Regions from separate parts of the Homo sapiens genome. Here regions 1, 2 and 3 are each reported to be linked to region 4. The links are microRNA targets in miRTarBase. Many come from high-throughput screens and were not tested one by one. Region 4 holds a microRNA gene; each other region holds the end of a gene's coding sequence.

The links. The annotated mature microRNA hsa-miR-3149 reads UUUGUAUGGAUAUGUGUGUGUAU and lies in region 4 at 3,896-3,918, shown strand. An mRNA with a match to its seed (bases 2 to 7 or 8) in the 3' UTR can be bound and repressed. Matches are read on the target gene's strand: a 7mer-m8 pairs with bases 2 to 8, a 7mer-A1 pairs with bases 2 to 7 and ends in A, and an 8mer does both.
Region 1: the mRNA of ZMYM4 is a reported target of hsa-miR-3149. Seed matches in the 3' UTR shown: 7mer-A1 at 4,489-4,495.
Region 2: miRTarBase lists ANKRD13A as a target of hsa-miR-3149. Seed matches in the 3' UTR shown: 7mer-A1 at 4,112-4,118 and 8mer at 3,712-3,719.
Region 3: the mRNA of PLCL1 is a reported target of hsa-miR-3149. Seed matches in the 3' UTR shown: 7mer-A1 at 4,347-4,353 and 7mer-A1 at 4,405-4,411.

Annotation. Positions count from the first base shown.
Region 1 is chr1:35,416,359-35,424,516 of GRCh38, forward strand. It overlaps ZMYM4 (zinc finger MYM-type containing 4), which reads left to right. Exons shown (of 30, transcript NM_005095.3): 29 at 2,085-2,214; 30 at 3,112-5,700. The coding sequence ends at 3,319. Among named protein-coding and RNA genes, the nearest start is that of ZMYM4-AS1, 54 kb to the left of the region's middle.
Region 2 is chr12:110,034,985-110,043,142 of GRCh38, reverse strand. It overlaps ANKRD13A (ankyrin repeat domain 13A), which reads right to left. Exons shown (of 15, transcript NM_033121.2): 14 at 6,815-6,882; 15 at 3,380-5,784. The coding sequence ends at 5,589. C12orf76 (chromosome 12 open reading frame 76) reads left to right here. Exons shown (of 2, transcript NM_001389625.1): 2 at 684-1,966. The coding sequence ends at 769. Among named protein-coding and RNA genes, the nearest start is that of C12orf76, 9.5 kb to the left of the region's middle. RefSeq lists an enhancer at 131-644.
Region 3 is chr2:198,145,234-198,153,391 of GRCh38, forward strand. PLCL1 (phospholipase C like 1 (inactive)) reads left to right here. Exons shown (of 6, transcript NM_006226.4): 6 at 1,547-4,630. The coding sequence ends at 1,729. Among named protein-coding and RNA genes, the nearest start is that of LINC01923, 230 kb to the right of the region's middle.
Region 4 is chr8:76,962,538-76,970,695 of GRCh38, reverse strand. MIR3149 (microRNA 3149) reads left to right here and starts at 3,846; the gene lies at 3,846-3,928.

The sequences.
Region 1 (8,158 bases), not on the chromosome of region 4:
CAGTTTCTGAGAGTGAAATACATTTTTTGAATGTGAGAATTTAAATCACTGAAACTAAAATCTGTATTTGTGATGTTCAACTTTGTATAAACTTTTTTCTGAATTGTTCATTTACTAAGATTATCTTTTTCACCTAATGTCTGTGTCCTGTTTGCTTAGTTTTATATATATGTAACCCACTTTGTGCTCTCAATTGATTTTTATTTATTTATTTATTTATTTTGAGATGAAGTCTCACTCTGTCACCCAGGTTGGAGTGCAGTGGTGTGATCTCAGCTCACTGCAGACTTCGCCTCCCAGGTTCAAGCAATTCTCCTGCCTCAGCCTCCCAAGTAGCTGGGACTACAGGCATGTGCTACCACGCCTGGCTAATTTTTGTATTTTTAATAGAGACGGGGTTTCACCATATTGGGCAAGCTGGTCTCGAACTCCTGACCTCAGGTGATCCACCCGCCTCGGCCTCTCAAAGTGCTGGGATTACAGGCGTGAGCCACCATGCCTGGCCTCAGTTGGTATTAACTGGGGGAGGGAAAGGCAGGTGGATAATGTTTCCCTGTTTGCTGATTGGGTGCTTGACATGATTAGTAGTGAATTCAGCTTGCTTTCTAAGTGAGTAACTAGCAAAGTCTTTCTATTTAGCTAGCTGCTAAATGGAAAATGGGTGAGTTTTGTTAAAGTAATAATGCAGGAAGCTGGGGAAAGTCCTATACCGGTTGTTAAGAGCAGATATAGGCTGAGTGCAATGGCTCATGCTTGTAATCCCAATATTTTGGGAGGCTCATGCGGGAGGATTGCTTGACCCCAGGAGTTTGAGGCTGTAGTGAGCTGTGATGGAGTCACTGCACTCTAGCCTGGGCAACAGAGTGAGACCCTGTCTCCCAAAAAAAAAAAAAAAAGAAAGAAAACCTTTTTTCCTTAGGTCCATCTAGTGTTCTCTTGAGGAGTGAATGGAAAAAGTGGGAAAGAAATAGCCCACTTTCCGTATCTTCACCCTGACTTCCTTATATAATGCTTGGCCTCTGCAAAATACTGTTGGGGAAAAATGGTTTGTTCTTTTCTTACCAAATAGTAACTCTGCTGATAATTTCTCTTCCCAACAAAGATGCCATTTCTCACAATATTCGAACAAATAAACTTGAGCAGATGCCCAGTACTAGTGCCCCACAGTAGAAATATTCTCATAGAGATGACAGCTTCTGCTGAGTTCAGTGGCTTGTACCTGTAGTCCCAGCTACTCCAAAGGCTGTGGCAAGAGGATCACTTGAACCCAGGAGTTCAAGGCTGCGGAGATTCAAGGCTGCTGTGATCACACCATCATGCTCCAGGCTGGGCAACAGAGTGAGACCCTGTCTCTTAAAAGAGAGATGGCGACCGGGCACGGTGGTTCATGCCTGTAATCCCAGCACTTTGGGAGGCCGAGGTGGGCTGATCACCTGAGGTCAGGAGTTCGAGACCAGACTGGCCAACATGGTGAAAACCTGTCTCTACTAAAAATACAAAAAAATTAGCTGGGCATGGTGGCAGGCGCCTGTAATCCCAGCTACTTGGGAGGCTGAGGCAGGAGAATCCTTGAACCTGGGTGGAGGCTGCAGTGAGCGGAGATTTCGCCGTTGCACTCCGTCCTGGGCAAGAAGAGCAAAGTTCCGTCTCAAAAAAAAAAAAAGAGATGGCAACTTCTGTCTTGATCTCTACTGTAGGAGAAAAACATGTGGAACCCTTCTTTCTGCTTTATCTTGATATGTCTCAGGAACCCTGTGCCTAATGAAGTTTATTAATAAAGTCAGGCTCAGAATAGAGACGTTTTCCAGTGCCAGTGCCATACTTTTTGTCATGGTGCCCCCACTTTGGTGAGCAGGGGAGCATAAAATTCATGGGATAGGGACTTTGTTTAATGCCATAGAATCCAGCACTTAAAATAATGTCTGGCACCTTCATAGGCACTCAGTATTTGTTGAATGAGTGTGAGTGAGTGAAAGGGAGGAAATGACAAAGTTCTGGCTGCGAAGCAAAGCTCATTGGTGTCTTGAGACTCAAAGAATAGACTTTTCTAATATAATCCTTTGATTATTATTTCCTGTCTCAAGATAAACTGACTGTTGGCAAGAGGAAACGAAATGAAGATGATGAGGTTCCAGTGGGGGTGGAGATGGCAGAGAATACTGACAATCCACTAAGATGCCCAGTCCGACTTTATGAGTTTTACCTGTCAAAATGGTAATCTTTCTCTGAACTGAATGTAGTGCACTCAGAAGGCAGTTAACATATTTTGGATTTCAGATGCTTGAACATCAGAAAAGTAGCTTGCCCGTGGCTTTAGACAAGGATTTACCATGAATTTTTTCCCCATTGTCATATCTATGTGGATTTTGAACCACAAAACAAATTACCTTGTCTTCATAATTATTTTATGAAAATGTCTTCAAAAGCAAGAATCACTGCTATTGTTTGATCTTTACAACTGTTGTACAACCTTTATGTGATACCTAATCTGTAGTTATTTTGTTATTTGTATAGAAAAGAAATTTTGTTTTGCTAAAGCTATAATAGAAAAACAATTTTTAAGGAATTGAAATTTTCTAAGTAGTCCTTTTCTTAGAGGAACTTTATGATTTTAGAGTTGTAACACTTTTTTTTCTGAAAGAAATGTAATAGCTTCATTTGCCCTTTGATAATGTGTATTGAGTGCCCTTGGAGTTCATTCCAGGATATTGGGCACTTCCAATATGTGGTGCTTGGCCATAGTGTCACATGTGAGTTGACTTTTTTGTTGCTCTTAATAATGTTTGAAGTACTAAAGTTTATGATTTACACTTTGTCTTATATTAACTTTATACTCACTTCCAATCCATTGTGATTTCAGTTGATTCCTGGGAGGAAATATTCCTGTAAACTATTTATCTCTGTGGGTACCTTGCTTTCCCCATTGTGAGTCACAGTGGAGAAAGGTTGAGAGCCATATTAGGTTGGTGCAAAAATAATTGCAGTTTTTGCCCTTACTTTTAATTACTTTTAATGGCAAAAACCTCAGTTTACTTAAGAATAGTACATATTTCCTATACTCTCTGATTTCTAATTTTCTTTTTTCTCTTTTTTTTTTTCCCCTGTGGATAGTTCTGAAAGTGTGAAGCAAAGGAATGATGTGTTTTACCTTCAACCTGAGCGCTCCTGTGTCCCGAATAGCCCCATGTGGTACTCCACATTCCCGATAGACCCTGGAACCCTGGACACCATGTTAACACGTATTCTCATGGTGAGGGAGGTACATGAAGAACTTGCCAAAGCCAAATCTGAAGACTCTGATGTTGAATTATCAGATTAAAACGGAAGTGAGGTTCTTATTTTCATACATATTGGTATGCACCAAACTGTGAATGCATCCAGCTGTTGGAAAATGATGTATAAGTCTAAGTCCTCTTGACTTGACCATAAGATCATGGAAAACAGATGACTTGTGAACCCCACAGTGTGGATGTGCAAATGAAAATTGAAGGAAAGAATATGAACTGAGAAATGTTCTTTGGCAGTGATATAGTTCTTAGACATCTTCAGAATGACTAATTTCTCCGAGTGGTGCATAATCTTATTTTGTTTGGGAGTAACAAATCGTGGAATATTTTTAAGGAAAACTGTTGTATAAAACTTTACCATAGTAACCTTAGACCTTAGAGAGGTAGCTTTGGAGTGAAACTTTGGCTGCAATAGGCTACTTTGGCAAGCCCTCCGTAAAAGTCAGAGGAGAGATCAGTACAGAGCTAAGAGTGACATCAAATGAGGACTGTGGGACCCAGATTTGAAGACCCAATAAAAATACTCAACTTTTTAAAAAAGATAGTGAAGTGGTCTTGATTGATTTTGATTTTCACTGCCAAGCCAATCATGTGAAGGACAGAAGCTTTTGCCATGGGCCCCTCACATCAGGGAAAATGACCTTCACTGCTGTTAACAGTAATGTGTCCCTTTCATTTTCTGGATCAAGCCTTCTCAGCGGTGGGTCTGGATGTGGGTAAACTAAGGTAAAGGGGATGATATTCCACAAACTAATTATGCACACAGAAAATCTGTGGAGCCTATCAGACCCCAAGTGTCTTGAAATGTTTGTAGAAACCCACTAAAATGCCCCTTCTCTGGGTGTGGGCCCTTATTGCAGCTGTCTCACAGCCTGAGCTGTGGTACAGAGAAATGGGGGTTCTCCTTTTATTTTCATTTTTTTTCCCCAATGGCAGCTTTTCTCCCGTTGTTTTACCTTCCTATTTCCCAAACAGTTCCTCTTATTTTGTCTTTTGCACCAGTTTCTGGAGGCCCTTGTCATTTCAAAAAGGATAGTCTCTTTTCTTACTCTGGCAAACCTGTGAGTGATTCCACAAAGATACAGTATTACTTAGCTATCTGAATTATGATAGAAAAGGTCCTAGTTAGGTTCCTATATAAAGCATTTGGAAGATGACCTTGTTGCCCTTGAAACTTGAAAATAGGGATTCTGGGGTGAGGATACAAAGACATTGTCTTGCATATCCATAAGCAGGTCTTAGAGCATTATTCCAAACTCTAGCTGTTTCAGTAGTTCTATGAGGATTGCAAGTCATAGGTGTGTGTGGCATATCAGTCCATCTCCCTCATCTCCATTCTCAGTTTCTTCCCCACAAAATTTGGAATCAAAGCTTTTATGACGTTTGCCAATTGCAGAACTTCTTCAGCTAAGGTTAATTTGACGCTATGATAAAACTGAGAGATGTCAAAAAGCCTCTTAGAAATTTTAATCTTGAAAGACTTTTCAGGGTATCTCATTTTTTAGGTGGGGGTGGCAGGTGTATTTCTTTTTTAACAAATAAAAGGCATTTAAGTAAAACTAAAATGAAAAAAGTAGGCCTTCTGACATTGTGTACTTGGTGGTTCTGTCCCTCTGCCTGTAACAAATCTCATTTTTGTTACCAAGAACTGTATGAAAGAAGTAAATCCACCCCGATTCTGTATGATTAATTCCATCTGTGTTTGTCATTTCTGACTGGAAAACTTCTTACTCCATACCTTGTTCGATATGGAGGACAAATAATTGGATTGTCTGATAAGTCTGCCAATAAACTATCCAGAAATAGCAAGTGTAATAGTCCCCACTATACGAATTTTATGGTTTGTATAAACACTAACATTTTCCCCTTCTGTAGTTGTATGAAAAAACAAATATTGTTAGCATAGTAGATAAATTGTTATGAAATACCAGAAAAAAAAATCTGTATCTTTTACTGAGAACACCCAATACCCAGATAAATGACTGTATCAGGATTTCATTTGCATGTTAGTCCACAGAGTTGCCCAGAACCCTAAATTTATTCATAAGAGAAAATATTGATTAATTATTGGTCATTCCTCATAAGTGTAGCTGTTGATGTGTGCGTCTGATTATTGCTTTTTTAATTTTATGAAAATTGTGTAAAATTACATTTTTTTTCCAGGGGAGAAAAAAACATCAAACAAAAACATCTAAATCATCCTTTTTGTTCTTTTTCAGTTTTTAACCACTTTTAGGTTTTCCCCTTACAGAAACCACAGAAATATTCCCTTAGAATAAAATAGTATATTTGTATTTGATGGGTGAGTTCTTCTTCTTTACGTCTTAAAAGAATTTGAAATCTCTTTTTCTGATTGACCTTATTGGTATGACCCAGCAATTAGTAAAATTACAAAGAAAGAGAGCAGTTTCCGAGAAAGAAATTTTTTTTATGTAGTCCAGTCAACATATTTTTTCATTGCAAGTTCTTTTATTTCCTTTTTTCCATCAAAAGACTTGTTCCCATTTTTAGCTAATTTACTGACTATATTCAAAGTCCCAACAGGTAGAAATATCAGAGATCATTTATACATATCATTTCAGGCAAACTTTTTTGAGATTTACAAAGCCTACATCAGTTCAACTTTAATGAAATTGTAAGACTAGAATAAAGGATATGTTCATTCTTAAGTATAAATACATGTTTAAAACAGGAATGTAAGACTAAATAGCATTTTCCTTCGACTTCAGAGTTGTCTTGGTATTATGCAGCTGTACTTTCAAATTCCGTATCGACTTTCTACCTACCTGCCTTGTGGCAATCCTAAATTTATAAAACAGGTTTTCCCAAAAGATCTAATGTAAAATGAATTTCTATTAATGAATTCAGAATTTAATTTTCCAAAGAAGTCTCCTAGGGTATTGAGTTGAAGTTTTAGGAAAGAAGCAATCATACCCTGAACTCCTCTAGACTAGCACTTGTCTGTTACACTGTGCTATCATCATTGAAGAGAATAGTGATTGAGAGGCAATGCTATGTAGTGGAGAGATCATAGGCGTCGAAGCCTAGTGTTTCTACTTACTGGTTGTATAACTTTAGGTAAATTACTTAACCTCAGGCCAGGCACGGTGGCTCACACTTGTAATCCCAGCACTTTGGGAGGTCGAGGCAGGAGGATCATGAGGTCAGGAGATCGAGACCATCCTAGCTAACATGGTGAAACCCTGTCTCTACTAAAAATACAAAAGTTAGCCGGGCGTGGTGGCGGGCGCCTGTAGTCCCAGCTACTCGGGAGGCTGAGGCAGGAGAATGGCGTGAACCCGGGAGGCGGAGCTTACAGTGAGCCGAGATCGTGCCACTGCACTCCAGCCTGGGCAACAGAGCGAGACTCCGTCTCAAAAAAATAAATAAAAAAATAAGTAAATAAAAATTAACCTCTCTGTGCCTCAGTTTTGTTATCTATAAAGTGGGTATAACTCCCTTATTAAGTTGTGCCTGGCACATGGTAGGCTTTCAAATGTCAGATATTTTTTATTACATGCAAATTTCCTGGCCTGTACTAACACATTAAATAAATGTTAATTCCCACACTACAGTCTGAATTTTTACTAAGTATAGCACTTTGGCTTCTGCAAAACATAATACTCTATTTATATAACCAATTCTACATATTTGAATCAAACAAAATTACAAATTCTTCACTTGTGCTTATGTGCATATCAATAGTAATCAACATCACAAGAATCCATTGATATTTTCACTATATTGAAAAATGGGGCTGGGCACGATGGCTCGTGCCTGTGATCCCAGCACTTCGGGAGGCCAAGATGGACAGATCACTTGAGGTCAGGAGCTCGAGACCAGCCTGGCCAACATGGTGAAACCCCATCTCTACTAAAAGTACAAAAATTAGCTGGGCGTGGTGGCAGGTGCCTATAATCCCAGCTGCTTCAGAGGCTGATGCAGGAAAATCACCTGAACCTGGGAGGCGGAGGTTGCAGTGAGCCGAGATCAGGCCACTACACTGTCCAGCCAGGGCAACAGAGTAAGACTGTCTCAAAAAAAAAGAAAAAAGAAAGAAATGGGCATGTATATCAGTATATATAGGAACAGCATATGATAGAGTTTATTAGTTTTTTTCTTTATATTTCTTTTTGTTTGTTTTGAGACACAGTCTCACTGTTGCTCAGGCTGGAGTGCAGCGGTGCGATCTTGGCTCACTACAACTTCCGCCTCCTGGGTTCTAGTGATTCTTCTGCCTCAGCCTCCTAAGTAGCTGGGATTACAGGTGTATGCCACCACACCTGGCTAATTTTTGTATTTTTAGTAGAGACGGGGTTTTGCCATGTTGGCCAGGCTGTTCTCAAACTCCTGACCTCAAGTGATCTGCCCACCTCAGCCTCCCAAGTGTTGGGATTACAGGTGTGAACCACCACGCCTGGCTAATATTTCTTTTTTTCTTTGAGATGGAGTCTCGCTCTGTTGCCTAGGCTGGAGTGCAGTGGCTCGATCTTGGTTCACTGCAACCTCTGCCTCCTGGGTTCAAGTGATTCTCCTGCCTCAGCCTCCTGAGTAGCTGGGACTACAGGTGCACGCCACCATGCCTGGCTAATTTTTGTATTTGATGGGGTTTCACTATGTTGGGCAGGCTGGTCTCGAACTCCTGACCTCAGGTGATCTGCTGCCTGCCTTGGCCTCCCAAAGTGCTGGGATTACAGGCATGAGCCACTACATCTGGCCTATTTATATTTCTTTGCATATGAATGCCAGGTCATAAATTTATTTTTTAATTGGGAGAAAAACCTTAAATCTATGAAACTTCTTTTACTTGGTAGGTTATATATGTCATCAGTTTAGGAACAAGACAACGGTACAACAGCAATCTCCCCACG
Region 2 (8,158 bases), not on the chromosome of region 4:
TCTGTGGGCCTGCAGCATGCTCCCTGCAGAGCCTCACTCGTAAGGTCTCAGTTTTTTGTTGTTGTTTTTTTTTTTGAGGTGGAGTTTCATTCTGTCGCTTAGTGGCGCAATCTCGGCTCACTGTAACCTCCGCCTCTCGGGTTCAAGCGATTCTCCTGCCTCAGCCTCCTGAGTAGCTGAGTAGCTCAGGAGTAGCCTCCTGAGTAGCTGGCGGATGCCACCACACCTGGCCAATTTTTGTATTTTTAGTAGAGACGGGGTTTCACCATGTTGGCCAGGCTAGTCTCGAACTCCTGACCTCAAGTGATCCACCCACCTAGGCCTCCCAAAGTGCTGAGATTACAGACACGAGCCACCACACTCGGCCTGTCTTAGTTTGTGAGTCTCCTCCTCGGATGCTTCCTGACTGTCCCCCCTTCTTGCTGCCCACCCTGTCTCCATCCCTAGCATGTTACTGTTTTTTTTTTTCACGGTATATCAAGCTATGTGAAATGCTCTCATCTGTTTGTTTCTCCCCCAACTATATTTAGAGACAACTGGAGAGAGGATCTGTTTACAGCTGTTTGCACAGCACTTGACATAGTGCCTGGCAGCAAGTGGCATTTGATAAATCATTGGCAGTGAGTGGATGAATTGCCTAACCTGGAGCTGCCATTAGGAAGTAACCTGTTTTCCCTTTGCAGTGTTGATGGGAACCATTTTCAGCATCCTGCTGGTGACTGTCATCCTTATGGCATTTTGTGTCTACAAGCCCATTCGGCGTCGGTGACAGCCAGACAAGTTCTTCAATGAGTATTTGGGAATAGGATAAGTTGTGTTGCACACAGGCCAGTGGAGAAGTTGGAACCAAAACTTTCCTACTTGGAAATGACCTTTGGTCTGGACAGTTGGTAAATGCTAAATGAATTAGAAGAAAACATGTACTAGACATTATTTTTTCCTAACACTGTAGCGCAAATAATTGGCCCCTGAGTCCGCTTCTCAGTGTTTCTGACTGTACTTGTTAAAAGTAAGACCTGAAAGCTCCAAAGGTCAGTGTAAAGATGGAGTGTTCATGAGAAAGAAAACATGGTAACCTTGTGAGTGCCTGTAAGAACCACACTGTAAAGAACTCATCATTAATGCTTGAAAATGTTATTAAGAAGGAGACTTACCATGCAGACATTCCCTATTTAAGAACCATTTGGTTACAGTGGGTTAAGAATCACAGATTTTTTTTTTTAATCTCACCTGAGTTAGCCTAGAATGCGCTGGTTGCAAAGTGGTGTCAGCTGTGGGGATCTTGGGCCCTCGTTCCTCACCTGCATCCTGCCCTGCACTCAGGTGCTCCCCCTGAAGTCAGGGTCACATCAGGTAGACCTGTTACTATATGCACCTTTGGCCTGGAATGCTCTGAAGTTGGACTGGAAATGTTACTAGGTTGGCCTGTTACAAAAAGGACCCCATCCTGCTTAAACACATTGATCTCCCTTGCCCTGCATTTGAGTCTTTCTAGCCCACGGTCTGAAACTTGAGGCAGCTTTCCAGATTTGGAATGTAAAAGGCTCAGTGGGCACTCTGTTCATCCCTGGGTGGGGAGGGCCCAGCCAACAGAAGTGCATGTCCACTGTGCGGGCCAGTGTGTGTTTACACAAATTTCATCTCAGCTTTGAAAATGCTGCTATTAGTTTCCACTGTTGGTGAACTGGATTTTTTCCTCCTATTGAAATGATACTTTCATACTTATAAAGCTGTCGTCAATATTTATTTCAAGGTGCTAGATTTAATTTTGTTATTAAATTGAAATGCTTATCTTGTGTTCAAGCACAGCACTGATTTTAACAACCTGCATTTAATGTGAAGTAACCGAAGTAGGATACTGTAACTGTGTAAGGATTTTGTTTGTAATCTTGTAACATTGAACCATTGAAATGTTCAGTTCTTTGCTTTTGAGCAAAACGTCAATTAAAACTAAAGTAAAATCCTATATATTGTTTTACTCCACCAGTTATTTCCCAAGTGTTTGAAATGCAGGTGTGTGTCTGAATTTGATCTAATCACTTAAAGAAGCTCTGTGAAGTGAAATTTCTTTTTTTGAGACGGAGTTTGGTTCCTGTTGCCCAGGCTAGAGTGCAATGGTGCATTGTTGGCTCACTGCAACCTCCACCTCCCGGGTTCAAGCGATTCTCCTGCCTCAGCCTCCAGAGTAGCCAGGATTACAGGCATGAGCCACCATGCCTGGCTAATTTTTTTGTATTTTTAGTAGAGATGGGGTTTCACCATGTTGGCCAGGCTGGTCTCAAACTCCTGACCTCAGGTGATCCACCTGCCTTGGCCTCCCAAAGTGCTGGGATTACAGGCGTGAGCCACTGCGCCTGGCCTAAAGTTGAGATAAAAGTCTCCTAGTGCTGCCTATGATTTAGTGACTGTGGAGTCATATCAGCATGTTGTATTTTTTTCCACCTGGACCTCAGGCTTAAACCTACACATATTTCTAAACAGAGGCCTAGGTGGTACTTTGAACTTCATCACTCACTGTACCACTGAATCACTTGAAATCTCCACATCCAGTTCATCTTCCTTGATGTCATTTGTGGTCAGCAGGAGACTGCGACCAAGCTGGCAGTTATGGCAGTTTCCCTTTCCTGTCATTATTTAGAGCAGACTTTCAATCCCTTGACATGCCACGTTTATGTAGTGTGACAAGCTTGTTTATAGAGCAGAGTGCCTTAGGAACTTAGTTCCTAGCAGTGTCTAACGTGCAGAAGTTGCTCAATTAAAGTTTCTGGCCGAGTGCGGTGGCTCATGCCTGTAGTCTCAGCACTTTGGGAGGCCGAGGCGGGTGGATCACCTGAGGTCAGGAGTTCGAGACCAGCCTGGCCAACATGGTGAAACCCCGTCTCTACTAAAAATACAAAAATAAGCCAGGCATGGTGGCACACGCCTGTAATCCCAGCTACTCGGGAGGCTGAGGCAGGAGAATCGTTTGAACCCGGGAGGCAGAGGTTGCAGTGAGCCAAGATCGCGCCATTGCACTCCAGCCTGGGCAACAAGAGCAAAACTCCGTCTCAGGAAAACAAACAAACAAAAAAAAAAAACCACTTCCTGCTGATATTGGGCCACTCAAGCTTAGCTTTTCAGTTTTTAAATAATCCATAGTCATTGCACCTCTTGACCTGAAAGAGTAATGGTTTTCTTCATAGTGTCCTTGTGGCTTCAAAGTATTGATATCTACTTTCCCCTAAAAGCAAAGCAGCTCCTTTACATCTTCCCAGAAATACAGCCTCATTTCTGGAACCCATACATTTCTACTGGCCACTGCCTTTGTTGTTTTTAATACCCGCTTATTTAGATATAGGAAGAGTTTGGAAGCCTTATCATCTGGACTTCTAGGAACAGCCTCACAAAGCAGTTGGCTTCAAGGGATAGCATTGATGCAGAGCTTTGATGTTGGCTGGGCTTCCCTTACCCCACAAGAGCCAGTTCCCCTCCAGGAGGACCACAGAGGTGTCAGAACAGCCCAACACTGGCTTGCTTTTAGTTGCCATTTGAAACAAGCAGCATGGGGCTTGTTAACCTGGGCAGGAAGGCTGGGAGGAGCATGCCACCTTTGCAGTGATGAACTGAGCGAAGTGAGGCATTCTAATGTTCTACTGACATACGTAACAGGAAGTGTGGGTACATCCAGTGACTAGAAAAAACTGAAAAGGAAAAAGACTCAAAGACTGGAATTTTGTATGAGCACCCTCTAAGGAAGCAGTCTTTATTTGCATTTTTAGAGTGAACACATATATGAAAAACACTGCAACAGGTTGACACAATGCTCAGTCCCTTTTTAAGTGAATTCCTGGGGAGAAAGTCAAGGACCTTAGGGAGCAGAGCAGTGGAATGCAAACACAGAAATTACCTATGAGTCACTTTTGTGAGCCAATGACACGGCCTCACTGCAGCCATTCCAAGAAGTATCTTTGCTCACGGTAAATGCAAAGTAAACAAAATACCACACTGCATATTTGAAACAAACAAATGTGACGTTGCCTATACTGGCCTCATGTGCAGAAGGAATTTTGGTCAGACAATGACAAAAAAAAAAAACAAAACAGATTGTGAAATGGAATTAAAAGCACAATTCTTTGTATCTGGGAACGTTTCACTGGCAACACTAACTGTATGATACAGACGTTACCTGGAACAGTAGTTATGTTTCTCTTCCTATCCCCAAAGAAGCACAATAGAAGAAATAGACGCAAAATGGAGGAGGGTGTTGTTTACCAGGTTATTTCAGTGCAGCCTGTGGGAATGAATACACGGGCCACAGTGAGCAGTGCCCTTGGCTGTATTCCCCAGGGTTCTGTATGTTGTGCGATGGTTATATACAAGAGGGTTTGACAAAAGAGAGTTAACTACTAAAGGTATCCAAAAAAGGCCTGAGAAAATCTGGTTAAAATGTATAACCTTGTATTGCTACTGATGGGAGTTGTTTTTATATCTTTTACAAATAATAAAAAGATTGTTAAAAAATAGATTTATCCAGAAAGATGTTGATTTGAACTCTAAAAAGCAACGTGGAATCATTATTTTCCCTTTTGAATGAAGAGCCATGGAGCTCCGTGGTTTTCAGCTCCCTTTCTGGTTGCAAATCAATCCTTCCTCTGGAGTGAGTCTAGGGCATGCGGGCTCTTCCTAGGTGTCTACGTGGAAATCCTTCACTCATGCAGGTGTAGAACACACCTGGTTTGGTTCTGTGTGTTCCAATATTTTGGCCAGCTTGCCCACTTCAAGAACAAGCCTCAGGTTCCCCTAGCTGCTCCTTCAGGGACAGGATTAGCTGCCTTTGATTTAGCCTGGAGAATCCTGCTCTCAAAAGAATTGCCTTTACAAATTCAAATCAGATCCTTCGATGCGTGCAGTGAGGTGATGTGAAACTATTAGTAATGTTTAAGGCTAAGGCAACATCCATGGCCATTTGTGTATCTTAATTTGATGCAAATAGTTAACAATAATCTAAAATAGATTCTATATGTATCTCCTCTAACTTTAGCTGGGTGTGGAAGGAATGGAATCAGATAGATGGAGGAAGAATAATGACAATGTCCTAGAAACCCTGTAAAAAGGTAAAAATAAGGAGATCAGCACAGATTACCCATTTCTTTGGTGAACAGTAAAGAAGTGTCTCCAATTCTCATAGATCACACTTTACAAAGGCGGCTGCTGCTCTTATATATAAAAGCACCCTGACTCTGCAATAACTTGTCTTGTTATCACTCCTTGATAAAAATTTATCTACAAACCTGCGGGGATTGGGGTTTTGTCTAAAGCTGGTAGTAAAAATGTGACCTGCAAGCCAATACAGCTAATGGAAAGTGATGATGCTCTCCTCCCCTTAGCCTGGAGATGGGGCCTGCAATCCCTGGTCCCTTCTCCACCCCAGGGAGCAGCCTGGATGGGCCCAGGAGTCCCTGGTTCTGCACCTCTGCATAAAGAAGGGGCAGTTGTTGCCTGCTGCATGCACGCAAGGTGCAGGCCCTTAGCCCTAGGGCCCTGGTTGACACAGCATCTGTGACAGCCCACAGCCTCTGCTTTGTGCAGAGGCTCACAGGCTGAAAGGTCTATTTGTCAGTGAGTGACAGCTGTAAGACTTGCTGGAGCTCAGCCTCTTCCTCCTGGAGCCGGAGCTCCCATTCCTCCAGCTCTTTGGCAGAGAGCTCCATGGCTAGCTGCAAGTCATTATCAAAACGGCTTGTCTCGCTCAGGGCGCTGGGGCACAGGCCTTCTGTGCTGGTGAGGAGGCTCTCCTGGATGGCCCTGGGTTGGAAAACAGATAAAAAGGGAGAGTCACTACTATCATCATCATGGTGGCAGCAGTAACTACATTTCTTAACCGCTTACCAAGGGCACACTGTGCCAGGCATTTAATATGCATGATGCCAATTAATCCCACATAACTGGCGGTGTAGGTGTTGTATACGGGTGAGAAACCCCACAATCTTGCCCAAGACCACCCAACCAGTAAGTGATAGGGCTGGGAATTGAACTTGGATCTGTTTTAAAGCAAAACTCAGGTTCTTCATCAACAGGCTCTCATAGACACCTTAAGTATAAGTCTTCGTAAAATGAATCCTCGCGGTTTTTCCCGTAATCTCTGGAGCTGTTCCTCCAAACTTCCTTATCTTTACAATTATATAAACTTCCCACTGAGGACATCTAGGCCCTGTGATCATACATCATTCATAGAAGATCAAACCAATCAGAAAAAACTGACTCAGTACGTTTCCCCCAATGGCACTGACCTGTGAACCAGTCAGCAATTCTATCACCCATTCCTGGAAACTTGCTATCAAGAGTCTAGAGTTATTATAAGTAACTGCCACAAGAGGAAGCAAGAGAGCCAACACTTTAGTCTTTTTTTTTTTTGAGACGGAGTCTCGCTCTATCGCCCAGGCTGGAGTGCAGTGGCGCGATCTCGGCTCACTGCAAGCTCCGCCTCCTGGGTTTGCCATTCTCCTGCCTCAGCCTCCCGAGTAGCTGAGACTACAGGTGCCTGGCACCATGCCCGGCTAATTTTTTGTATTTTTTTTAGGAGAGACAGGGTTTCACCGTGTTAGCCAGGATGGTCTCAATCTTCTGACCTCGTGATCCGCCTGCCTCGGCCTCCCAAAATGCTGGGATTATAGGCGTGAGCCACCGCTCCTGGCCTACTTTTTCTAGTCTTTCCTGCCAGTTTGTGGCACCGTACATCTGCCTGAGGACCAAATGCACAGTGCCACGCGTCTGCTCGCCTGTGTCCAGGCCTGTGTTCACCCTGGTTTATTCCAGAGTCACGTCAGTCAATCACCTCTCATACTGGGCGTCATAGGTGTTTGTCTGGCTGATCCCTCCATTCGAAGCTGGTCCTGAAAGTTCCTGGCAAAGACAAATGTGATAGACATGAATACGTCTTAGGAGAAATTGGTGCCATTCTGGTAAGGAAACGATGGCAGCAAGAACCAAATTAAAAGTCTTTCCATGACCATTATCAATAGTGCTGTGTGAAAAGCTAACAGGGACTTGGGTTACCTCAAAAACAACACCTAAGTGGGAGGTAGTAACATGCCACAGCCTAACTCACAGCCACAACCTTCTCATCCTTTGTACAAAATCAGTCTCTTAAATACAGCTAACCCACGTGGAAGATATACACAACGAAAAGCAAAAACACAGCTGACCTTGGGCAAAGTTCAAGTGACCAAAGCAGGTTTTTGTTTTTTTAGAGACAGGGTCGCACTCTGTTGTCCAGGCTCAAGGGTAGTGATGTGATCGTAGCTCACTGCAGCCTTGACCCCAGGGCACAAGAAATCCTCCCACCTAAGCCTCCTGACTAGTTGGGAATACAGGTGCACACCACCATACTTGGCTTTTAAAATTTTTTGGTAGAGGCTAGGCATGGTGGCTCACACCTCTAATCCCAGCACTTTGGGAGGGCAAGGCTGGTGGATCACTTGAGGTCTGGAGTTTGGGATCAGCCTGGACAACATGGTAAAACCCCGTCTCTACTAAAAACACAAAAACTAGCTGGGTCTGGTGGTGCGCACCTGTAATCCCAGCTACTCGGGAGGGTGAGGCATGAGAATCACTTGAACCTGGGAGGCAGAGGCTGCAGTGAGCCAATATTGTGCCCCTGCACTGCAGCCTGAGCAAAAGAGTGAGACTCTGCCTCAAAAATTAAAAAAAAAAAAAAATTTGGTAGATATAGGATCTCACTATGTTGCCCAGGCTGGTCTCAGACTCCTGGGCTCAATCAGTCCTCCCATCTTGGCTTCCCAAAGTGCTGGGATTATAGGCATGAGCCACTGCACCCAGCCAGTAATTCTTCTAGGGCAAGATTAGAAGACACAATTCAATACTGGTAGTCTTTGACTTTGGCTACTTCCCTTGTTAAAACTTATGGTCAACAAGGTTTATGAAGCTACTTGGGAGCTGGCGGGGGGAGCTAAGCTCACTTACATAGGGAAAGGAAAAGCATACCAGGCTGATGGTGATGTGCAGGGGTCTTCTCCCAGGATGCCTCCCAAAGGGAACATGCTTGCTTTGGGGTCTGGCTCGGAAAACTGAATGGGTCTGGGAATGGGGCCATGGTGGTGGCAGGGGGAAGTGGAGGAGGTAGACTCACATTACACAAGCACTAAGACTCAGGAATAGA
Region 3 (8,158 bases), not on the chromosome of region 4:
AGACTCATTCGTGATGTCTATAGTGTTAAGAACAGACTTCCCAAAGTCTGCTGGTGTAGTAAATATTTTTTCTTTAGAAAATACATCTCTCACTGACAGAGTCTTTAGGCTCTAATCTCTAGTCTTTAGTCTCAGACTAGATTGTAAACATGGTGTGGGGAATAGAGCATTGATGCAGGAGGCCAAAGGCCTGAACTTTAGTCCCAGCTCAGCGATTAACCAGCTGTGACCTTGGGACAGTCAATTAACCTCATCAGGCTCAGCTTCATTTCTCCTCAGGAGAAGGCAAAACTGTCCACCTCCAACTCTTCTTCCAAAATCCCATACCATAATTGATGTACTTGAGAAGAAGTTCGCTTTAACACAAACATCAGGCAAAGCCCAACTATTTAATCATCCCATATAATTAAAAGCTGCTATTAGAAGGATTTAGCTATTTTTTACAGAGGATAGAATTGGCAAGTGCATATTTAGGTTTTGAGAAATAAAATATTCCAAGCTTTTGTAAAATACAAGTTTCTTCATACACCCTAAGGAAAAAGCATTTACTGGCCTTTCATAAAATAGGTAAATTATCCTTTCTCTGAGCCTCTGCTTTGTAGAATAATGCTCCAGCAATCGTCATAACCCCATATCCACCCATATTGTCCTTTCAAGGTCACACTTTCAGGCACTGCCATGAGAATGGAGAGGAGAGGGAAGAAGCTACTTCTTCCTCTGTCTATGGGCCATAGACACCTGTCCCTGCTTCCCCACACTCAGTCATTCAGCCCTTGGGCCAGTATCAGTATACGCACTTTATCTTCATAACAGTGAACTAAAATAAGAAATAAAAATAGCAGGAAAAGATCTCTGTTGGGCACTGATGTAAATGACAGCTAATGTGTTCCTGCAATCCTCATTTCCTTTTTGTTTTGCCTCTGGAGACTCTTTTTCTCCATCTGCCAGGTGGGAACATCATCTTCAGGATGATGGAAAAGGCAGAAGTAATGTGGGTGACTGATAATTTAACAACAGGCAGATTGCAAGGATGACCCAGTATATTAAAAACCAGCTCACCAAGCATAAGGGTATGTGACTTACTTTACAGAAGACACTTTGCTTTGTAAGCTCTTGTACAGAGGGGGAGATTTTATTTTCACTTCTTTAAGGAAGAGCTTCTTTCCTTGTTTTCTCCCAAGACTAGGAATGCTGGATCTGGGCGGGGTAGGTATTGCAGCAGTGTGCAGAGTCTCAGACCATGGTGATGGAAGAGTTGATGTCCTCAGCACATAAAGAGGAGGATTCCTCACAATAGGAATCTCAACGGACTGCCAGCAATTGCATAGCCAGCTGGTCAGGCTCAGGTTGAGGTACTTGGCTTAACAAGCAAAGTCACTTAATAATGTTAGAAAAGAACCTTGGGTTAAACCCTGGAAAAGTGAGCTTGCAGGTCTGGGTCTGTTTCCTTATTCAGCAATGGGCAGTAAGAACATAGAGTGATGTCACTCAGCACATGCCTGGCCCATAACTGTCTTCTTTGATGCCTGTTTTTTTCTGTTTGTAGGGCCAAGGAGATCTGTTGAAGAATGCCAAGAATGAAGCTATAGAAAACATGAAGCAGATCCAGCTGGCATGCCTGTCCTGTGGACTGAGTAAAGCCCCCAGCAGCAGTGCTGAGGCCAAGAGCAAGCGCAGCCTGGAAGCCATAGAGGAGAAGGAAAGTAGTGAGGAGAATGGGAAGCTGTGACTCTGGGCATTATCGACACGTTCACCCATCTTATCAAGGACTCTGGTTTCTCATTCTTGTTTTCTTTCTTTAAATGTTTTATAAGTTCACAAAATGGTGCCCTATATGGGGTATTGGACATAGATATTTTCACAATGTCAGTATTTCAGTGTAGTTAATTTATCTAAATTAAAGCCTTTAGTATCAGTGTTTTAAATTCTGAGACATGTGTCAACACCCCTGTGTGGATGCCTGTGGAAGAGTGTGTGTGTGTGTGTGTGTGTGTGTGTGTGGCAGAGAGAGAGAAAGAGAGAGAGAGAGAGAAATTCTGTTAAAATCTATTCTGTGTTGCATTATTCATTTAGTGAGTTATTCCTTGATCATTTTGGGACAATTGTTTTAATCTGAAATTCTAAAGAGCACTTACTGTAACCTGTTGCTGTGTTTAATTTGACTTCTCTGCCTTTGACATTTAATTTAGTGATCTTAGCATAGCTTATTATTGAAGGAAGCCAAATTTATCAAAGCATAGATGTTTTGGTAGATTAAATATAGATTAGAAAAATTCCTAAGAATCAGAGTAGAAATAAAAGTGAATGAAAGATTAAACAGATGATGAGAATTTCTAAAAAGATTAGCAAGGTCATTTCTTCAGTCAGAAAACTTTAAAAAATATTTATTAAATAAAATCAATTTTTAGGAAGTTTTCTGTAGTCATTTACTAAACATATGATTTCACTAGAAAAGCTGATCATAAGTGAATTTATACCTACCTGTGTGGTACTCTGAAACACACTGAAAGCTCTGTTGCAATTAGGATTTTGATGTGACAATAATATTGTTGTATAATTTCGAGATTTGTAGGAAGGTCTCATTCTTCCAAGCTGAGAGTCTAGCACTCATTTTCTATAACAGATATGGCAGCTTAGAGGTGTTGGCTTTGTTTGGATGTAATTTAGGGTACTAAATTTAAATTTAAAGATATTGTTCAAACAATATCATATCATCACATTGAGCTGATATAAATTCTGTGGGTCCGATAATATCTTTGTGATAATTTAAGAGCTAACCAGTTACCACACATCTATGATATAACCCTAACACACACAGAAAAGCATACATGCAAAAAGAAATGACTAATTAGGGTACATTTATAATTGCATCTAGGTAATTTTTACCCTAATGTCTTCATAAAGTACTTGAGTGTAATGTTTGTTACCTCCAACAGAACTAAATGTTCTATGGTTATGAAAGAATATATTTATTTAAAGCATTGCTTTTATTTTGAAAAGCTTCTTAATTAATTTGATTAACAAATATGCTAATTTGGGGAAACCTAGAGAAGATAATTGTTGAAATTTTGCAAATATAAACATCTCCTATAGCTTCTGTGTTATTTCTGACTTCTTAACACTATTATGTTTATGTTGCACATTACTGAAAGAGTAAAGATATGAAAAAAACACTTATTGTTTTCTTTTATTGTGAATTGAAAAAGCAAAGCTAATGAAAATGGGTTACTACATCAAAAATATCTTAAAGAGTTTGCTATTTCCATGGACCAGATATGATGAAATTATTCCCTGGGTTTAAAACTGGGCACTCGAGGAGGAGGTACCTGAAGTCATTTGAAGGCAAGTTTCCAATGATGCTACAATGGCCTGAAAAAATTTCTTTACCCTCTGTTATATTTAACTTGCTGGTAGGAGGAATAGTGGAATGCAGGTGTTAAGCCCTTTGTGGTGAAAAAGAGGTTCTATAGACAGAAACAAAACCCACCTTACATCAGCTGATTGGTTGATTTTACTAGTGTACCTCTTCATCTACTTGAATTCTATTTGGTAAATCCATGTCTTTACTGGATATACAGTTAGGTGGGAAGAGGAGATAAAGGATGACAAACTCTCAAACAATATTTATACATTTATTTACTCCAGGGTCAAATCCAATCCTTGGAAGTAGCTTCTCTAGTTTATTTTATTTGTCCCAGAGCTCTACTCACACTTAGGACCCACCCAAAAATTCTCAAAAACGTAATATGGATTCTGCCTCATCTGATGCTATTTCTGGCAGTGGGTTGTCAGCCATACTCTGCTTCATTCCACTGGGTGTCCTTGCTAGATGGGGAGTGAGATGTGGAGCAGGGAGGAGCTTTGGATTCTGGGAGTGGAGGTGGCAAGGGAAAAGTCTCCTAGTCTCCTGTGATGTTCCTGCCTCCAGATAGAATAGCAAAAACAAACAATTTTTTTTTGTGTATTATGCCTCCATGACATTGTTACATTCTATGAGGAGCATCTGTCTCCTTTCTAGACTTGAACTGTGGTAGAAAAAGCCCCCTTCTCTCTTCTATCTACTTAGATTTGGTGATGCTAGGAATGTAGTGTTTTAGATATTAATTCTATTTTTATTTATTCATTTTTACATCACCAATAGGATCTGAGGTGGAGATGGCGGGTATTATCACTGGCATTTTACAGGTGAGAAAGCCCAAAGCCACTGAGGTAATTAATGGAATAATTGATTTTGAACTTGGGTCTGTCTGATTTCATGTGCAAGATTATATACTTAGTGATTTTGATTTTAAGTTTATTCTTAACATTTTAAACCAGACTATTAACTCTTACCTTTATAACCACAGATACAAAGAACTGTATCATTTATTTTCTGAATATAAAATATTAATGGTCAATATAAAAATACAAAAATAGAGAACTATATACAACAGAAAAGCAAAATTACCCACTAATAACATTTTGATTTATATCCCTTTAGACACTGTTTAGAGTTTATACATATATGTAAATATGCTTGTATTTTAACAAAATTGAGATATTATATAAACTGTTTGTAGCAGGGTGTTTAAAATTTTAACAATATGTTATGGATATCTTTCTGTGTCAATAAATGTGTATTTACATTAGAGTTCCAAGCATTTGAACTGAATCTAGTCCAAAAATGATGTGTTTTATTTGGCCATTGAACATTTTTTAAAAAAATCTTTAAGCAATAGACAGCTTTTGAAATTCAGAAAATGTTACGTACAATTCAATGTCCTGCATGTTTTAAAATACTGGATAATCTAACAACACAGAACACCTCCCACTCCCCACCTCACAACCACCACACATATACTTTCTTGCTTGGCATCAGTTAATTGAAACTGCCCTCTCCAAAAGGGGCATATGCTGTCCAATTTTCTAGAGAGCCTTTTCATTCATTTATGTTACATCTGGACCTTAAGGACATGATAGGTGGTGAAACTTGATGAAAATTATCATTTATTGAGAGGCCAAAATGAGAGAATTGCTTGAGGCTGGGAATTGAGACTAGCCTGGGAAACATAGTAAGACCTTGTCTTTAAAAAATAAAAAAAAATTAATGGTCATTTATAATAATTATACAGTATCTTATTATATGGCTTACCAGAATATATTTAACCAATCTCCTATTGCTAGATTTTACTCACCTAATTTCTTGTTATATAAACATTCCAATAATAAAATCCATTTTTGCAAAGTTGTTCAACTTTTTCTTTGGGATACATTTCTAGAAGTGGAATTGTTGGGTCAAAGGATACAGAGATTTTTTGTTTTGTTTCATTTTTGTTTTTTAGGGATTTTGAGATACATTGCCAAATAGTCTCAGGAAAACTTGTTCAATTTAAAACCCCACCAGGAGTTTATGAGAGTGCTTAAATCTTTGCTAATGATAAATTTAATTTTTCTTATTTTCATCTTTGCCAATCTTCTAAGTTACAAAAATCTTATTTCTCTTTATCTTTAATCTCTAATGAGATTGGATGCATATTAATATGTTCATTGACTCTAAATAATCTAATTAAAAGTAAAAACTTTTGTACTCCAAAGGATACTACCAAGAAAGTGAAAATAGAACCCACAGAACAGGTTTGCAGGTCATATATCTGATAGAGACTGGCAACCAAAATTTATAAAGAACTATTACAACTTAATAAAAAGAAAACCAAATTTTTAAAAACTGGTCAAAGGATTGGAATAGACTTTTCTTCCAAGAAAATATGCAAACAGGAAATAAGCACATAGAAACGTGCTGAAGATCGTTAACCACTAAGATCACATAAATCATAGCCACAATTAGATATGACTTCACACCAAATAGGTTGGCTATAATAAAAAAGACAGATAATAACAAGTGTTAGTGAGGATGTGGAGAAATTGGAACCATCCTACCCTGCTGGTGGAAATGTAAAATATTTCAGCTGCTTTGGAAAACAGCTTGGCACTTCCTCAAAAGGTTAAAAAAACATGGAGTTACCATATGACCCAGCAATTCTACTCTTAGATTTCTACCCAAGAGAAATGAAAATATATGTCCACACAAAAGCTTGTACACAAATGTTTGTGGCAGCATTTTTTATAATAGTCAAAAGTAGAAACAATCCAAATGTCTATCAACTCATGAAAGGATAAATAAAAATTACATATTCATACATTGGATTGTTCAACAATAAAAGAAATGAAGTACTGATACATGCTACAAGAGTATACCTTGAAAGCATTATTCTAAGTGAAGGAAATCAGGCACAAAGGCCACATGTTGTACCGTTCCATTTTTATAAAATATCCAGAATAGGCAAATCAGTAGAGATAGAAAGTAGACTAATGGTTGCCAGTGGCTGTGGGGGTCTGGGAGTGACTGCTAATGGGTATGAGTTTTCTTATTGGTGTGATGAAAATGTTCTGGAATTAGAAATAATGATGATGTTTGTTTACATAATTTGTGAATGTACTAAAAGCTATTTAATTGTATATTTTAAAGAGTGAATTTTATGGTATGTAAATTATCTCAGTAAAAGGGTTATAAAAGGAGAAATAAAAAGAATTTAAACAATGAACAGGGTATTAGAGAATAGTGAAATAGCTTCAAGAATCTAATATGTATGAAACTGGAGAGAAGAGCAGGAAAGAAAAATAATTTGAAGAAATAATGGCTAAAAATTTCTCATTTGTAATGAAAACTATAACCTCCAGATCCAAGTGTCTCAAAAATTCCAAGGACAAGAAACATGAGAAAAACAAGTTAGTCTGTTTTCTGCTGCTGTAATAGAATGCCACAGATTGTGTAATTTACAAAGAAAAGAAGTTTATTTGGTTTACAGTTCTGGAGGCTGAGAAGTCCAAGAGCATGGCTTTGGCATCTGGTGAGTGTAATTCCATGCCAGAAGGGCAAAAGGTGGAAGGTCAAGAGAGCCCATATGAAGGAGGTTTTGCTATTATAACAAAGCCACCTCCTCTACAACTACCCCACTCCGATGACAACACCTTTCATGAGGGTGGAGCTCTCATGACCCAATTACCTCTTACTTGGCCCCACTTCCCAACACTCTGGCATAGGGAGTCCAATTAAGTTTCCAACACATGAGTTTTGGTGACACCTTCAAACCATTGCAACAACCAAGGCATATTGTAGCCAAATAGTTCAAAAGTAGTGATAATGAGATAATCTTAAAAGCAGCCAGTAAAAAAAGACATGTACAGAGAAAATAAGAAAGACAGCGTATGTCTTATTGTAAACTGTGCAGATGAGATGCCGGTGGAGCAACTTCTTTAAAGTATTGAAAACAAAGCAAAAACTGTAATCCTGGAATTCTATACCCAGTAAAAATGAATTCTAGAATTCTATACCTATTCAAAAATGAAGGTTATACAAAAAAATTTTCAAAAGCTCAATTCATCACCAGTAGACTTACATTATAAGAAATGTTAAAGGAAATCCTTCAGGCTGAAGGAAAATGATGCCAGGTCAAAATATGGATGTACAAAAACAGATGAAGAGAGAGAGCTAGAAATAGTAACTGCAGGGATAAATATAGCTGGCCCTTTGTATCTAGGGGTTCTGCATCTGTGGATTCAACCAACAATGGATTAAAAATACTTAAAAACTGATAAAAATAACAATACAAAATTAAATACAAATAAAAATACAGTACAATTATTTATATAGCATTTACATTTAATTGGGTATTATGAGTAATCTAGGGATAATTTAAGGTATACAGGAAGATGCATAAAGATTATATGCAAACACTATGTTATTTTATGAAAAAGACTTGAACATCTATGGATTTTGGTATTTGCAAGGGGTGAATGGGGTATTTGCAGGCAGTGAATGAGGAGGCCTGGAACCAATCTTCTGCTGATATTGAGGCACTACTGAAAAAGGTATATTACTTAAATCTCTTATTGTATTGTAAACTGTATAAGTAATGAAATTAAAAGGCAGAAATTGTCAGACTGAATAAAATGAAAAGACCAAACAATATGCTGCTTACAAGAAACACAATTCAAATATAAGGACACAATTAGTTTAAAGGAAAAGAACTGGAAAAGATATACCATGATAACACAAGTCAGAAGAAAGCTGCTGTGGATATATTAATATGAGATGTAGATTTCAGAGCAGTGAATATTG
Region 4 (8,158 bases):
ACTAAATTAAGTACACTATGACCTCACCAATGAGATAAATAGGTACATAATATGTTTTACTAACAACAAATACCTCTCAGTAATCAAATTTTGATTTTCTTTTTTATGTTTTTCTGTATTTCCCAAATTTTCTACAATGAGCATATAATTATTTTTAATAAGACCCAAACAGGTTATTTCTTTAAAATTTCATGACCAGTTTTGTTTCAGTTAATCCAAAGATAAAACATCTTCACAACTTGTAAACAAGTTTTTTGATGTGAGATAATTTAGGAGGTAAAAGATTCTAAATTACTATAGTACCTATTTTTGCATTAAATAAAACCTGCCTTTATAGCCAATCACAACTGTAGAAAGTCTGAATTATTTCATATGTCTTAAATTACATATTAAATATCTAACTCCATACTATATATGCATTTTAATCACTTAGAAGTATGTAGGAAAGTCTAGAGCTAATACACCAGATCTGAAAAATTGACGTGAATATTTAATATTGTCAACTGCCTAAGCTTGTAAAGTCACTATATTTCCACAACTAAGAATCTAAGATACAGGGTCTGACCTAGGATTTTGTATTTCTTCCAGATATCAACACAAAATGTCGACGTTTCTGAGTATTGTTATGGTTTGGCTGCCAATAAGAGACAATGCAAACTTGAATCTCAACTGAGACCTAATCTAAATAGTCACAGTTGGTCAGGCGCCATGGCTCAAGCCTGTAATCCCAGCACTCTGGGAGGCCGAGGTGGGTGGATCACCTGAGGTCAGGAGCTTGAGACCAGCCTGACCAACATGGCAAAACCCCGTCTCTACTAAAAAATGTAAAAATTAGCTGGGTGTGGTGGTGTACACCTTTCCCAGCTACTTGGGAGGCGGAGGCAGGAAAAGTGCTTGAACTTGGGAGGCGGAGGTTGCAGTGACCTGAGATCACGTCAATGCACTCCATCCTGGGCAACAGAGCAAGACTCTTTGTCAAGAAAATATATAAAATAAATAGTCGCAATTCTGAATTATTGGAGCTGAAGTCTTTACTGTTCTTGAGGTTTTCAGAATGGTTCCTTGGTAAATATATCTCACCATACACTCAGAAAATATCATCCTCTCCTGACAGCCTCTATTTTAAATCCATGCCAATTTGTAAGAGTGCCTTTCTAGTCACCAAAAATAATAAAATACTACAATTTTTTTCACTAATTGAAATTATAATTACTTGCTTTAAAAATACTTAGTTCTAGACTAAATATAGAGGTCAAAAAAAAAAATTTAAGAGCAAGGATCCTCATCCAATATCGTGAGCATTATTTCTTAGTTTTCCTTCTCAGACCTAGTGGAATATTTCTCAGTTCAACTTGATGATTCTCTCAAACAGCAAAATAGCCTTTCAGCTCAGTAAGGACAGAAACTGTATCTTTCTCATTTTTGTGGCACTACAGCCAAAAACCGACTGACACAATACAGATGCTCTGTAAATGTCTGTAGAAACCAAGAGAGTTTGAAGTTTGATCATCAAGCCGTTCACAAAGATTGAGCAGAGCAGCTGATGGTATTAGCGTAGGGAGAATTCTATATGCATGTATATAATGTTGTGGAAAGGCCACACCTCAGGTTTGTAGTGTATCTTAGGATTGCCATTATTAATTTAAAATATCCTGTGGCATTCTTGCTTTGAGAAAAACAGTTGGAATTCAAGAGCACAATAAGAGAATTAATAACTTTGCTTTGAAAATACATGCAATTTCAGAGCTGTCAATTTTAGCTATGTCTCTTTAAATACTTTTTTCTTCTAGAATCCAACTGGGTAGATGAAGTTTGTTTTTTTTTAATTCCATTATAAAAGTAATAGCCCTGTTTTGGTGTTTTGTAAGCAGATAATATTCTGCTGGTGACTGTCTTTGCAATAATGCATTGCTCTGAATTCTGAATTCTATTATTTTACATCTACAGCAGCGTAAAGTATTTTTTATAAACAGCAAACTTCACCTCATAAAAATTCATTACATAAGGGCATAAGCAAGTGCTTTTCCTTCTAGTCATTGGCAGTAAGTGATTCATCAGTTTTCCACAGAAAACCAATTTCATTGCAGATGTTCTGTAATTTCCAGTCCTCCTGAATTGTGGAGCCATATCACACAATCCCAATGCCAGGAACATAAGGACTTTTTAAAAGGTCTGTGCTTAGTCTCTTTAATAGGATTGAATATCACTTGCTGTCTCATTGGTTTTATTTTTTTAAAATTAAGAAGTCAGACTCCTTTTCTTTCCTATATATGTTGATTCCACACATGGGTGGATAACTGGTAGCAAATTCAAAACCAACAGATTTCTTCGTATTTGAAACAATGACATTCATTCTTTTCCCTGGAATCAAAGCAGAAATATTAAGAGAAACAAAAGTTTTCCCAAACCTAAATCCTTTTTCTTCAATCGTGCTTAAATTCACTGTTTTTTTACCCCAGAGTAAGGAAGTCAGGCAGAGGGCTGGGGGAAATTCAGGAAGTGTCCATCTGTCAATTAATGGAGCTCCCGAGAATTTTCCTCAGGTAGATTTCTTCCACTGATAACTTGAGTGTGGTTTTGTCTAATGTTTCAAGGTTGAGAAGTGGAAGATAGGTATTCAGTATAAAATATGGAGATAAGAGTGGGGGAAAGCCTGCAGACTCAGTGATGGTCTAAGGACATATATGATAAATGAAAATTTCTCAGAAGTACAAAAGACTTCTCTCAGAAGATTAAACATCTCCTAGAAGGCTTATGAAATTAAAGTCCAATTTTTTTAAGAACATCGTCCTTGGATTGAAAGGTTGAATCAAAAGCATGATAATTGAATTTACTTACAATACAGAGTTATGAGCTATTGCAAGGGTGAAGTGATAGATTTTCAAGATAACCAGTTTGGTTCTGAAGCTGGTCCTTATTTACTCCTCTGCCTTCCATTGCAGCTCTGGTTACCCACGTATTTCCTTTAATGAGTTAAGTAAGTAATGCCCATGGACTTGGTCTCTGCAGGGCCACTCCTATGCAGAGGTCTCCGCTTGTGTTTTAGAGGTATAAATATCTGCCCTTAGCTCTGCCATGGTTCCTGGCATTTAATCATCAATTGAAAGTAGTATGTCTATAAGGGCAGAGCATTATCTATAACGTAAATTCCATGCAATGTGCTGCCTTCTGTTGTGGATTTCCTGCCAGCACCAGTCAGAGATTAGAGGCAGCTGGAGTGGGAGAAAGGTGGCTCGGACACATACATCCGTAAACTATAGAACCACCAATCAAAATCTATTCTATTTCCTCATCTCCCTAACCACTAATTATTTTTTACACATTACCTCTTTTTACTTACTATCCTCTAAATTCATGTTCATTTTATTTTTATTATTTTTTTTAGAGGCGGGGGTCTTGCCATGTTACAGAGGCTGGTCTTGAACTCCTGGCCTTAAGCAATCCGCCTCGGCCTCCCAAAGTGCTGGGACTATAAGTGTGAGCCACTGCATCTGGCCCTCTAAGTTCATTGTAAACTGGCTTCTCCTTTATACAAGCTAAAACTTAAGACCACATGAATGATTAAGCCTAGCCTCCCTCCTCATTCAGCCAAATGATTAGTGAACACTTTTTTCAATATTTTTTTTTCAGTATGTTGGGCATTAAGAATCCAAAGATTAGAGTCTACCAAAGGAAAAGGCAATGGGAGTAAATAGACAAAGTGCTTGGAGAGCATTGAGAAATGAGTGATTTATTTCATCAGAGACCTGTAGAGGCCTTCCAGGGACAAAGATATTTCGGTTTAGTCTTGAGGTATGTAGGATATCTTCAGGTAAAGAAATTTAAAAAGGACATCAAAATGGGATATACATACATGTACACACACATGTCATCCACACACATACATATATATATGTTTGTATGGATATGTGTGTGTATGTGTGTGTATACACAGAACCGACAGATTTCCTCATGTCTGAAAACAATAACATTTAAGAATATCTTAAGAGTATATAAGTTCTTGAGATTTAACACCTGAGCCCCTAACATCCAAGTTTAGATGAGTAGTCATTCATTCAACAGATAATCATCAAGGACTCACAGTCTGCCAGACACTGCTAGGTAAGCATCAAGGATGCAAAGACAGTAAATACAGGACATGTTTTCTGCCCTTAAGAAACTCACAGTTTCCCTGAAAACTAGTTAATCACTATGGAAAACAGGGTCCCGTGAGAAAAGAATTTTATGCAAGAACAAGGTGAAGATGGAGTCATAACATAAGACATCCTTTAGGAAAGAAAGCCCAGGCTGGTAATCCCAAATTGAGATTTTTCCAGGGCCACTAGGAAAGGCTAAGGATGCCTTGGAAGAAAAAGGGAAACAAAACTAGAGAAAAGGCTGTTGAAAGAGGACAGACCAAGTAGCAAACAAATTTTGGCCGAAATGAACCAAAAATTCATCATTCTACCAGGTGGCTGGTACCCTTTTAGAACTTTTTATTCTGAGATGTGTTATAAGCCACTCTTTACAAAAGAGGCAACTAAGTAATTTTCCCAAGGTTACATACACAGCAAGGGTGAGAACTAAGGTCTTTCTGATGCAAAATCTACCCTCTTTCTACAACACCCAATCGCCCTTCAATTTTATCTCACAATTGCTACCAGAGGCTCATTGTTTAACTGGCTTGTCCATACCCTCTGCAATACACTGCTTTCAACAAAAATCAGAATTGTGTCAAAAAAATTTCAAAAAAAGGTCATGCATATGGAACTACCACTTAAAGTAGGGGCGATATGAGAATAGAAACCAACTAGAATGTCCTGAGTAGATATAATTGAGAAATAGGAGAGATATAGTATATTCTTGAGATACTTGGATACTTGAGAGGAAAAGCCCTTGTCCAGACTTTCTTTGACTCAAGAAAGGGAGAATAGTGATTCAGAAAGGGAAGAGTTATTATTGTTTTCTCAGGACTCAACATTGTGCCTCATCCATGGTCATACTCAATAATTACTTGTTGAATGACTAGAAGAATGAATATCAAGGGAAAGGGAAAACACTGGAGATGCTAATTTTAACTTACATATTGGCAAAGCTACTTTCTGGTGGTGATTTTTTAATAAAAATACCAAGTATTGTTGAGAGTATAGAGAAGCTAGCATCTTCTTAAACTACTGTATCAGTGTAAATTTTTTTGGAGAGCAGATTGGTTATATGCATCAGCAGCTTTAGAAAATGCCTCCTTTTTCACAAGAAATTATAGTTCTATAATTTAATACTACTAATAGAGGGATTTATTTACCAGGATGTGCATCTCTATTTACTATGGTGAAAATTGCCAACAACCAAAAATCTCTCAAAGGAGATACACTAAATAAACCATGCTGTAAAAACATGTAGTTTTTCTTATCTATTATTTAGTAAAAAGTAAAAGTTGGTTATAAACAGAATGTACAATATCATCCTGTTTTCCTAAATACAGAATATGTATATTTTTATAGTTATATAAGTCTATTACAAAAGACTAGATAAATTTGTAGTAAAAATGTTGGCAATAGCCATCTATGGGAGATATAGGTAATTTTTATTCCGTTCTATGTGATTGTATGTATTCTCCAAATCTTCTACAATAGATATATAATTATTTTATAAAAGGAAAAAGGATCAGGCTGGTGGCTCAGGACTATAATCACAGCATTTGGGGAGACCAAGGTGATAGGAATGCTTGAGGCCAGGAGTTCCAGGCCTGCCTGGATAACATAGTCAGACCATGTCTCTACAAAAAAATAAAAATAATTAGCTGGGTATGGTGGTGAATGCTTATAGTCCAAGCTACTTGGGAGGCTGAGGCAGGAAGATTGCTTGAACCTGAGAATTTGAGCAAGACCCTGCCTCAAAAACAAAACAAAACAGAAACAAAAATTCAAAAACAAAAATTAAAAAAAAACATAAAAATGTAAAAGCAAGCAACAAAATGAGAAAAATATTTTCAAATTATATAAAAGGTAAAGAGTTAATGTACTTAATTCCCACCTATCTACTAAAAAATAATGAGCCCAAATACAAGAAAAAACAATCCTCAGAAAAAAAGAAATGAAAATGGCTAATGGACTTATAAAAATATGTTCTACTTGGCCAGCAATGAAAGAGAAATGGTGATTAGAACAAATTAGAATAAAAATGTACTATATGAATATGAATATTTATTGTTGTTGAAAGCCCAGTAATGATATACTTGGGGAAAGCAGTTTTCCATTATGAATGAAGAGCCTTAAACAACTCACAGCTTTTGACCCAAGATTTCTACTTCTCAGAATCTATCATAGTAAAGCATTCAGAAATGGGGACAATGAATTAAACATATATGTATATTAAAAAGTGATATGCACTCCTAGGGTTTACATATGTATATGTTAAAGGTATTTATGGAATAAATCCTAGGAAAGCTTAAGTTGAGTCACTTGAGGTGTTTTGACTGAGACTGAAAATTAAGGAAGATAACTTCTGCATGTTGACATACAATACTTTCAACTGAGTAACAATAATAATATCCTAAATTCAAGTACGGTTGGTGTACCATAAAGATGTACATTTCTAGTCATTTAAAAAATGTTACTTGAATTGAAATGTCGTTTTTTTTAGTTAGCTTGTTAGATAAAGCCAACAAGGAAATAAAAAAAAAAAAACAATGAAGAAAAGGGTATTGTGTTTGTTGTTATTGCTGTTGCTGCTACGGTTTTTATCTTAAGTGCCTGTCACATGGTAACATTCTATAAATGAATATTGATGAATGGACTTCCTACAAATTAAACGTGAGTCCTTCTTTTCAAATAGTAAGGTGTTTGAGTTTCACTGAGTTCATTGTACCACCGATTTTTCCAGTGTTTATTTTCCTCTATTTCTTACAATTCTGATTAAACTGCTATCACCAGAAATAGGTATTTGTATACATATTTGCTAGACTCAATGTTCTACTTGGCTAAAAACACCAACTCTTAGATATTCTGATCTGTCAGAAACTGTTTCTAATCTTCAGTGAGGGCTATGGTTTGGAAGGTAGAGTATGTTCCAAGATGCTCAGCAACCTCTTGAACCAGGAAACAGGATCTTTATCTTCCTGACCTTCTATTTATCTTTTGAAAAGACAGAAGCAATAACATTAGCTATGTAACTAACCTGCTAGCTCAGGTTCCTCTTTGTCCTTCTTAGTGGGCTCTTTCCATTTTTCTGTTTTCTTTCAGCATTCTCTATTGCTGAAGTATTTGGGGGAAAAAAACTGTTCTATTAACTTACATTGTTTACAGAAAAAAGTTTATTTTCTTTAAATTAGTTGGCCAAGTTAACATTCAGTGAAAACAAGGTATTTGATGTTTATTATTCTTACTTTCTTGTTTCAGTGAAATATAGATACTTTATACTTGTACACTTATTAACAAAGTCAGGTCCTGACTGAAGACCTCCGTTTTGAAATAGAAATGATGTCCTAGCTCTAAAGTACATCCAATCAAAGCAATTGAGTTCGAAGCACAAAACAACACTAGCGATTTCATTATCTACGTTAGAAAATATGGGAATGCAGGCACATAATCTAGCCAAAGACTAATCAGGATTTCATCCACAACTCTTCATACTAAAATAATCTATCAAGTAGGATTTTTAGGCTAAAGCTATCTGATACCTATGTAAAATCACAGTCAACTGTAGTAAACATTATACTGATATGCAAATATAAAAAATTAAGTGTTTCCTGAGGTTCTTCTACTCTTTTCCTGAATCTTTGTAGTTCAAGGATTATTCCTTTTACAAAAACCAAATGAAGCTCTTCTTCTTCCGTTCCATAGTCAGCTCTTATCTGTGATCATATATTTACTGGCCACAGTGCTTATTTGGTAAGTAATCATAAAATCACAGGCTTGAAAGTACTTTTTTAAAGAATACCTCTATAAAACCTTTATTAATTGGGTATTCAGACTCCATTTTATTACTTTCAGTAACTGAATTCACAGTCTCCCAAGAAAAAATCAGTCATGCTTTTGAGATGTTTTATTTACTTAAAGTGTTTACCTGTCATTTCAAAATAGTTGTCTACTGGTTATAATTCTGTCCTGTAAAGCCATTAGAAAAAGTAGAATATTCCTTCCTCAAGAGAGTTTTTTATATATTTGAAGTAAAACACAGC